Linked DNA regions of Homo sapiens. The protein of the gene in region 1 purifies or fractionates together with the protein of each later gene. This does not show direct contact. Each region holds a gene or a part of one and is shown in the gene's direction. Other genes may lie near its edges.

Region 1 (4,259 bases):
AAAATTAATTCCAAGTATAGTATAAATCTAAATATGAAAGGAAAGACACTACACTTTCTAAAAACTAATCAGAAGACCTTCATGACCTAAGGAGAGACCATAAATTTTAAAATGCATTCACCATAAATTCTTCAAATGGAATTTTCAAACACATTTGGCCAGGCACACTGGCTCATGCCTGTAATCCCAGCACTTTGGGAGGCCGAGGCGGGTGGATCACCTGAGGTCAGGAGTTCGAGATCAGTTTGGCCAACATAGTGAAACCCCATCTCTATTAAAAATCTGAAAATTAGCCGGGCATGGTGGTACACACCTGTAGTCCCAGCTTCTCAGGAGGCTGAGGCAGGAGAATTCTTTGAACCCAGGAGGTGGAGTTTGCACTGAGTACTCCAGCCTGGGTCACAGAGCAAGACTCCACATCAAAAAAAACTAAAAATAAATACATGGGACTTTATCAAAAGTATAAACTTCTGTTTCAAGATTACTAAGAGAGTACATTTCAAGTGTTCTCACCACAAAAAAATAAGTATTCAAGGCAATGGATGTGTTTGTTAGCTTGATTTAATCATTTGACATTGTATACATAGAAGATCACACCGGACCCCAGGAAAATATACAATTATAATTTGTCAATACACAAAAAATTAAAAAATGCCAAGTGCAACTTCCAGATTATGTAAAATAAGGGCACCCAACACACACTCACACTCACACACACACTCTATCATACACAGTCTCTCACACACACACACTCTCTGTCTCACACACATTGTCTCACACCCACTCACACAGTCTCACACACATTCTCTCACACACATACACACTGTCTCTGTCTCACACATTCTCTCTCTCACACACACATGCACTCTCTCTCTCACACACACACTCTCTCACATACACACACACACACACACACACACACACACACACACTAATTGCTTCAGGACAGCCAGCTGAAGGCTGTGAGCATCCGGGCGCCCTCAGCACAGGTGTGTGGTGGTAAAGGCAGCCTCTTGCCAGCAGCAGCACCTGTAAGTGGTGCACACAGGTGCAGAAAAGTGCCTGTTCCCTGGGGCTGGTGGTTCAGAGCCGGTTGCAGCCAATGAGCAGCAGCAACATCACTGGCTCAGCGCTCCCCAGGAACTATCGCCACGTGGGCGTGGAGCTGGGCGTGGCCTTCTTTTTTCCGTGATTGCCAGCTGGCCCAGAGCTGGACCTGCTCTTGGTGGTGAGGTGTGAAGCTGGTGAGTATTCCTCCTGTCTTGCTCTCTGCCCTTCCCGCTTTTGTTCTCCACTGCTGATTAGAACCCGCGTATTGAGCTTACTAGGTGCCCCCACCCTCTCCCTTCTGGCTGCTCAAAGCCCAGGACCAAAGGATTCCTTGAAAGAACAAAGTCCAGTTACCCCATTTTGCTGAAAAGATCTTCCTCTAAAACCTCATATTTACTTGGGGTATTTAGGTAAGTCTCTCGTCCTTTTCAGACATTCGGTCTAAAATACTGTACAGAGGGCTGGGTGCAGTGGCTCACGCCTATAATCCCAGCACTTTGGGAGGCCGAGGCAGGTGGATCATCTGAGGTCAGGAGTTCAAGACCAGCCTGGCCAACATGGTGAAATCCTCATCTCTAATAAAAGTACAAAAATGAGCTGGGCGTGGTGGCATGTGCCTATAATCCCACCTTCTAGGGAGGCTGAGACGGGAGAATCGCTTTAACCCAGGAGGCAGAGGTTGCAGTGAGCCAAGGTCACGCCACTGCACTCCAGCGTGGGTGACAGAGTGAGACTTCGTCTCAAGTAAAAATTAAGTACAGAGTAGGGGGTACTGCAACTTGAATGTCAGGATTAGCTAATGTCTGGTCTGCATTTGGTAGGAGTCCAGAGGGTGTTTTGGTGCTAATTGTGCAAATACTATGGTTAACCGTAACTTAGTTATTGAAATGCCATACAATTCTGACGGTGTTGTTTGTCCTGTTTACCAAGGGAGGAAGCTGAGCCCCAGATAAGTTAAATGGCTTGCCTGGGGTAGAAAGCAGCAAATCATTCAAAGCTGGGTCTGAGACTTCAAGCCCTATAATCTTAACTGCTGCTTTCTAATCATTCAGGACACCTGGGTAGAAAGGTGAGGTGGGAGGGGTACGGTCTGTAGAAAAAGCATAGAGACAAAATGCAAGCTTAGGGAAGTCACTCATCCTCAGAAAATAACCTCAACCAGCAGCCTTCCTTTACCTCCCTCCAGCTGTATTCCTGCCTGGACTCGAATAACTAGCTTCTCCCCAACTCCTCACCCACCCGACTTCACGGGAAAAAGTGACTGCCTATCCCAGATTAATCCTTAGGCCGTCCAGTCATCTTTCTCTGGGGCTTGATTGATCAGTTCCCACTCTGACAACTGGCAAATACCAGGCGTTATCATCCTGTATGCATTAACGTACTTTCCCCTGAAACAGAGCAACCCAGTCAACACCACAGAACCTCAGCTTTGAACCCTGGAGTGAGGACGGTGATGCCCTGTGTGTATTAATATGCTATGTAAGGCTGGGCGTGGTGGCTCACGCCTGTAACCCAGCACTATGGGAGGTCGAGGTGGGCAGATTACCTGAGGTCAGGAGTTCCAGACCAGCCTGGCCAACATGGTGAAACCCCGCCTCTACTAAAAAAAAAAATACAAAAAATTAGGCGTGGTGGTGGGCTCCTGTAATCCCAGCTGCTCGGGAGGCTGAGGCAGGAGAATCACTTGAATCTAGGAGGCAGAGTTTGCAGTGAGCTGAGATCACGCCATTGCACTCCAGCCTGGGCGACAGAGCAAGACTCTGTCTCAAGAAGAAAAAAAAAATACATATACACATAAATATATATATGTGTGTGTGTATATATATATATATATATATATATGCTATATAAAGTTTAAATGAAATGCTTTGAGTCACCTAAGACAGGATATAGACAAAGTCTTCATCGTCTTCTTGCTTCTTCTACCTTTATTTATTCTCAGCTCTGAATGTATGAACCTGCTCAATCACCTCATCTTAAAAATAAAATCACTGTCCCTAGACCATACTCGTTTCCTTACCCACCCCTGAGGCTTTTGTTGGTTTTTACAGCCCTGGTTCACGTCTTGGTCCTCCAGCCCCTTTAAAGGATTGTGTAGAGCGGTAAGGGAAATGTTTAATTCAAATTACGTGTATATAGAAGTGTTTAGATATGACAGTCCGAAATTCGTTCTTTCTCAAATAACCTTCCTTCTTAATTTCATTGCCTAAGTTGAGAGTCTTTGTCTTCTGTGTTTTGCTTTCAATTTCCATGTATCCAGGTGGTTTATGTTAACTCAGAAGGGGGAGAAAAACCTAGAAAATCTTAATTGTTCTGTGGTCAGGATGTAAGCTTTTAAACATGTGCTCAGAAATAAGTATTTTTCCATTTACCAATAGTCAATATTGTCCCTAAATATTTATAGGAATGTGTAGAAAAGCTTATTTTCTTGCTATGGTTCTATTTTGAGCAATACAGCACATAAACTTCAATGTTCTATCATCAGTGTTCACGTGTACCTAGTTTTTTGGTCTTCCATGGATGGGTAATTGTAAGAATACCTCAATTGTTTTGATGAAATTCATTTATGTCTACTTATCTTCTACTAAAATGATTTTTTAATGGGAGGTACTTTTTAGTATTTGGTGATTTTTGGTGTGTATGTGTTAGACAAAGTCTCCCTCTTTTGCCCAGGCTGTAGTGCAATGGCTGGATCTCTACTCACTGCACCCTCCGCCTCCCAGGTTCAAGCAATTCTGCCTCAGCCTCCCGAGTAGCTGGGATTACAGGTGCCCGCCACCACGCCCGGCTAATTTTCATATTTTTAGTAGAGACGGGGTTTCCCCATGTTGGCCGGGCTGGTCTCGAACTCCTGACCTCAGATGATCCACCCACCTCAGCCTCCCAAAGTTCTGGGATGACAGGCGTGAGCCACTGCGCCCGGCCTTTTTCAGTATTAATTTGAAAGAGCAGCAATATGAGAAGGTGTGGCGGGAAGTGTGTCCTTCCCTGCCCCCGTAGTGTCTCTTCCCTATTTTCTGCTCATCACCCAAAGACATTCTGCGCACGTGTATGGCATTAAGAGCCTTACAGATGGGGCAACTTTCTGTGCTGATTGTTGTGCATTTTTAAGGATGCAGGGCACGTTGGTGCTCAAATTAACCCACCTGTTTTTAATCGACTCCTAAATGGTCTTCAGTCTTGCTGTTTTACACACGGCTGGGTCTAAT
Region 2 (3,824 bases), on another chromosome or scaffold:
GTGTTCCAAGTGAAGGGGTAAGCCCCTTATAAAACTATCAGATCTTGTGAGAACTCACTCACTATCATGAGAACAGCATGGGGAAAACTGTCTTCAGGATTCAGTTATGTCTACCTGGTCCCACCCTTGACATGTGGGGATTATTACAATTCAGAGTGAGATTTGGGTGGGGACACAGAGCCAAACCATGTCACCATCCTACCTTCTTAATCTCTCAGCTCCTCCTTTCCCCTGCCTCTTGCAGCAAACTCCTAATCCTTCTTCACCCATCAGCTCAGAATGTTACCTTTTCAGAGAAGCCTTCCTTGTCACTCCCACTTAGGTTCTTCTTCTTTTAAGCAGGTATAGCTTACATCACACAATTCCCAGCCTAGTAACTGATTCATTATATAACCAGGCTCACCTCTCTTGAGAGGGAGGGACTCTCATTTGAGAGCAGGGACTGACTTTATTTGAGGCTAAGCAATATTTATAGTATTGACACATGGTAAGTATATAATAAACATTGGTTGAATGAGCAATAATAATGGCTAACATATTGCATATATTGTTCTTAGCATCTTAACATGCAGAGATAACTGTATGAGGTGGATTCATTATCAGATTACAGTAGTTCTTCAGTATATCAGCTAGCTTAATGACAGTTGAAAGATCATGCTAGCAATTGAACAAATGTATCTGGCACACCTCTGAGCACAGAGAGGATGGCTTTTCCTCTAGGCAGATTTTCTTAACAGGTTGCTCAGTTTTTCATAGGATAATATAGACTCTGCTCAGTACAGTAATTCTATTAAGACATGAAGCAATTTAGAGTAGATACACTATAAATAAATGCCCAGGGTAGCTATGGCAATGAACTTTGTCAAAAACATCACTCAGAGAAGCAATTTTTATGTATGTTCTGTCTGAAAGAGATACAGCCCACCCATTTCTCTAAAATACATTCATGGATTAAGTCAGATTAACAGGCTATCTTGAGATTACGTGTACCCTATTCTGTAGAACTGGTTTTACTGAATTGGCCTTTGAAATGATGCTATAAGACTATTAACGGATGTCTGATAGTTTCATAGAACTTAGCGCATTTTTAAAATTATACTTTAAGTTCTGGGATACATGTGCAGAATGTGCAGGTTTGTTACATAGGTATACATGTGCCATGGTGGTTTGCAGCACCCACCAACCCGTCATTTACATTAGGAATTTTTCCTAATGCTATCCCTCCCCTAGCTCTCCACCCCTTGACAGACCCAGTGTGTGATGTTCCCCTTCCTGTGTCCATGTGTTCTCATTGTTCAGCTCCCACTTATGAGTAAGAACATGCAGTATTTGATTTTCTGTTCCTGTGTTAGTTTGCTGAGAATGACAGTTTCCAGCTTCATCCACATCCCTGCAAAGTACATGAACTCATCCTTTATTATGGCTGCACAGTATTCCATGGTGTATATGTGCCACATTTTCTTTATCCAGTCTATCATTGATGGGCATTTGGGTTGGTTCTAAGTCTTTGCTATTAAGAACAGTGCTGCAATAAACATATGTGTGCATGTGTCTTTATAGTAGAATTATTTATAATCCTTTGAGTATATACCCAGTAATGGGATGGCTGGGTCAAATGGTATTTCTAGTTCTAGATCCTTGAGGAATCACCACACTCTCTCCCACAATGGCTGAACTAATTTACAGTCCCACCAACAGTGTAAAAGTGTTCCTATTTCTCCACATCCTCTCCAGCATCTGTTGTTTCCTGACTTTTTAATGATTGCCATTCTAACTGGCATGAGATGGTATCTCGTGGTTTTGATTTGCATTTCTCTAATGATCAGTGATGATGAGCTTTTTTTTTCATAGTTTGCTGGCTGCGTAAATGTCTTCTTTTGAGAAGCGTCTGTTCATATCCTTCCCCCACTTTTTGATGGGGTTGTTTGTGTTTAAGTTTAATTTGTTTAAGTTCTTTAAGTTCTTTGTAGATTCTGGATATTAGCCATTTATCAGATGGATAGATTGCAAAGCTTTTCTCCCATTCTGTAGGTTGCCTGTGCACTCTGATGATAGTTTCTTTTGCTGTGCACAAGTTCTTTAGTTTAATTAGATCCCATTTGTCAAGTTTGAACTTAGCCCATTTTATCTATTGCAAGGATACAGTGTCTTAAGGAGATTGTTATACTGTACAATTTTCCTTTTGTAAGTCTAGAAAGACTTAAAGCATTTTTCGTATTAGAGACAATTGTGCTTTTCCTGAGCAATTAGCTTGCTTTTTCTTTATGGGTACTGTGGATTGTGTAACTGATTAGGCTTACCTTTTTTGTATAGAGTCATGGGAAGAATAGATACAAATTTGTGATGTGACTATTGCAGTTATATGGAACATCACACACTTCAGTACATTTAGATATTAGCCTCATTCTTGGCTCCGTTATATTTCGTTATCCTGGCTTTTCTCTCTCTTTATCTTGCTTTTTTTCTTTCCTTCTTCCTTTCAAATTATCCTGTCTTCCTCATTTGCATTATATGAATTCTTTTAAGCTACCTCGTCATTATTTGAAATTACATTAAGTATATATACACACAAATATACATATGAATGTAAATTCCTAAAATGAATTTAGATTTTAAAAGAGCTACCTGTAAAGTAAGCTTTTAAAACAAGTTCCTTTGAAGTTCTTTGTTTGCTATTAGTGTTATATTTTTCTTCAGGACATTAAGCAAGATTTTGTTAGATTCCTATTTCCTTTCAAGTTTGGTTCAACAATTATATTAAAGCCTAGTTAGACATGGATGTGGTTTATATTTTCAATCGATGTACTCTTTTACTCAAATAAAGCACTTGTGATATTACAGACATTGTAATCCAATGTACAGGGCTATGAGTAAAGTTATAATGAACTTTGTAACTACAAGACTGAACTCCAGAAAATGTGAGGGAAGGGCATGAAGCACTCACGTTTTTATGTGAATAATGAATACCTACTCTAAAAATGTGTATTGACATTGGACAAAAGTATATATTCTAAACTACAAATGGTAGGTGGTGTAGCATAGTGGTTAAGGACACTAAAATGTAAAGGTTAGGTTGTACAGTAGAGTGACTAAGGGTACAGACTGAAGCTAGACCTCTTGAGATTGACAAATTGGCCATATGACATAGAGAAAATGATTTAACCTCTCTGTGCCTTAGTTACATTATCTGTAATATAGGGAACAATAATAGTACCTACCTGTTGGGGTTGTAATCTCTGGCATGTAGTAAGCATCTAGTGAGTCTCAGTTATTACTGTCTTTAACATATGGTATAATATTTCAGAATGTATGTTGTTGATTTTAATTTTTAGGTCTCTTGCAGCTGAATGGGGTAAATATGGAATGCGATTCAATGTGATTCAACCAGGGCCTATAAAAACCAAAGTAAGTTGTATTTTGCTTGTTATCACATTGTGAATGATTAAATAATGAAACACTGATAGGTATATTCTGGTTGTTGTGTAAAGGACTTTCCAGAGATGCCTAGGTTTAGAGCCCTGGTTCTAGGGAAGAGGCCTTTGCCTTTATTCATTATCGAATATAAGAAATAAGGAGGCGGGCAGGAATATAGCAGCTATGCAATTTCTTCATAATGTCAATTTCAGTGTCTTAATCGTTTGGGATCTTTTATACCATCAATGTTGGCACTTTGTCTGATTTGTTTCAGTGGTCTGTTATTGTCCTGTATTTGTTAACTTTCATGACATTTTAAAGGCTCCTACATTGTCTGACATCCTTTTTTAAAAAAAATCAAGGAAATGTAACTATATTTTTAGTTTGAGAGATGCTTTGGTAACTTATTA

What was found.
Region 2: the proteins of NLRP5 (region 1) and DECR1 purify together in Homo sapiens (affinity purification with mass spectrometry; one large-scale study listed by BioGRID and IntAct). This does not show direct contact.

What each region holds. Positions count from the first base shown.
Region 1 is NC_000019.10:55,985,578-55,989,836, forward strand, and holds the start of NLRP5 (NACHT, LRR and PYD domains-containing protein 5), read left to right. Parts: upstream 1-1,197; 5' UTR 1,198-1,244; intron 1,245-2,236; coding exon of another isoform or gene 2,237-2,336; exon of another isoform or gene 2,337-3,052; intron 3,053-4,259. UniProt on the Homo sapiens protein: Component of the subcortical maternal complex (SCMC), a multiprotein complex that plays a key role in early embryonic development.
Region 2 is NC_000008.11:90,039,396-90,043,219, forward strand, and holds part of DECR1 (2,4-dienoyl-CoA reductase [(3E)-enoyl-CoA-producing], mitochondrial isoform 1 precursor), read left to right. Parts: intron 1-3,332; coding exon 3,333-3,405; intron 3,406-3,824. UniProt on the Homo sapiens protein: Auxiliary enzyme of beta-oxidation. It participates in the metabolism of unsaturated fatty enoyl-CoA esters having double bonds in both even- and odd-numbered positions in mitochondria.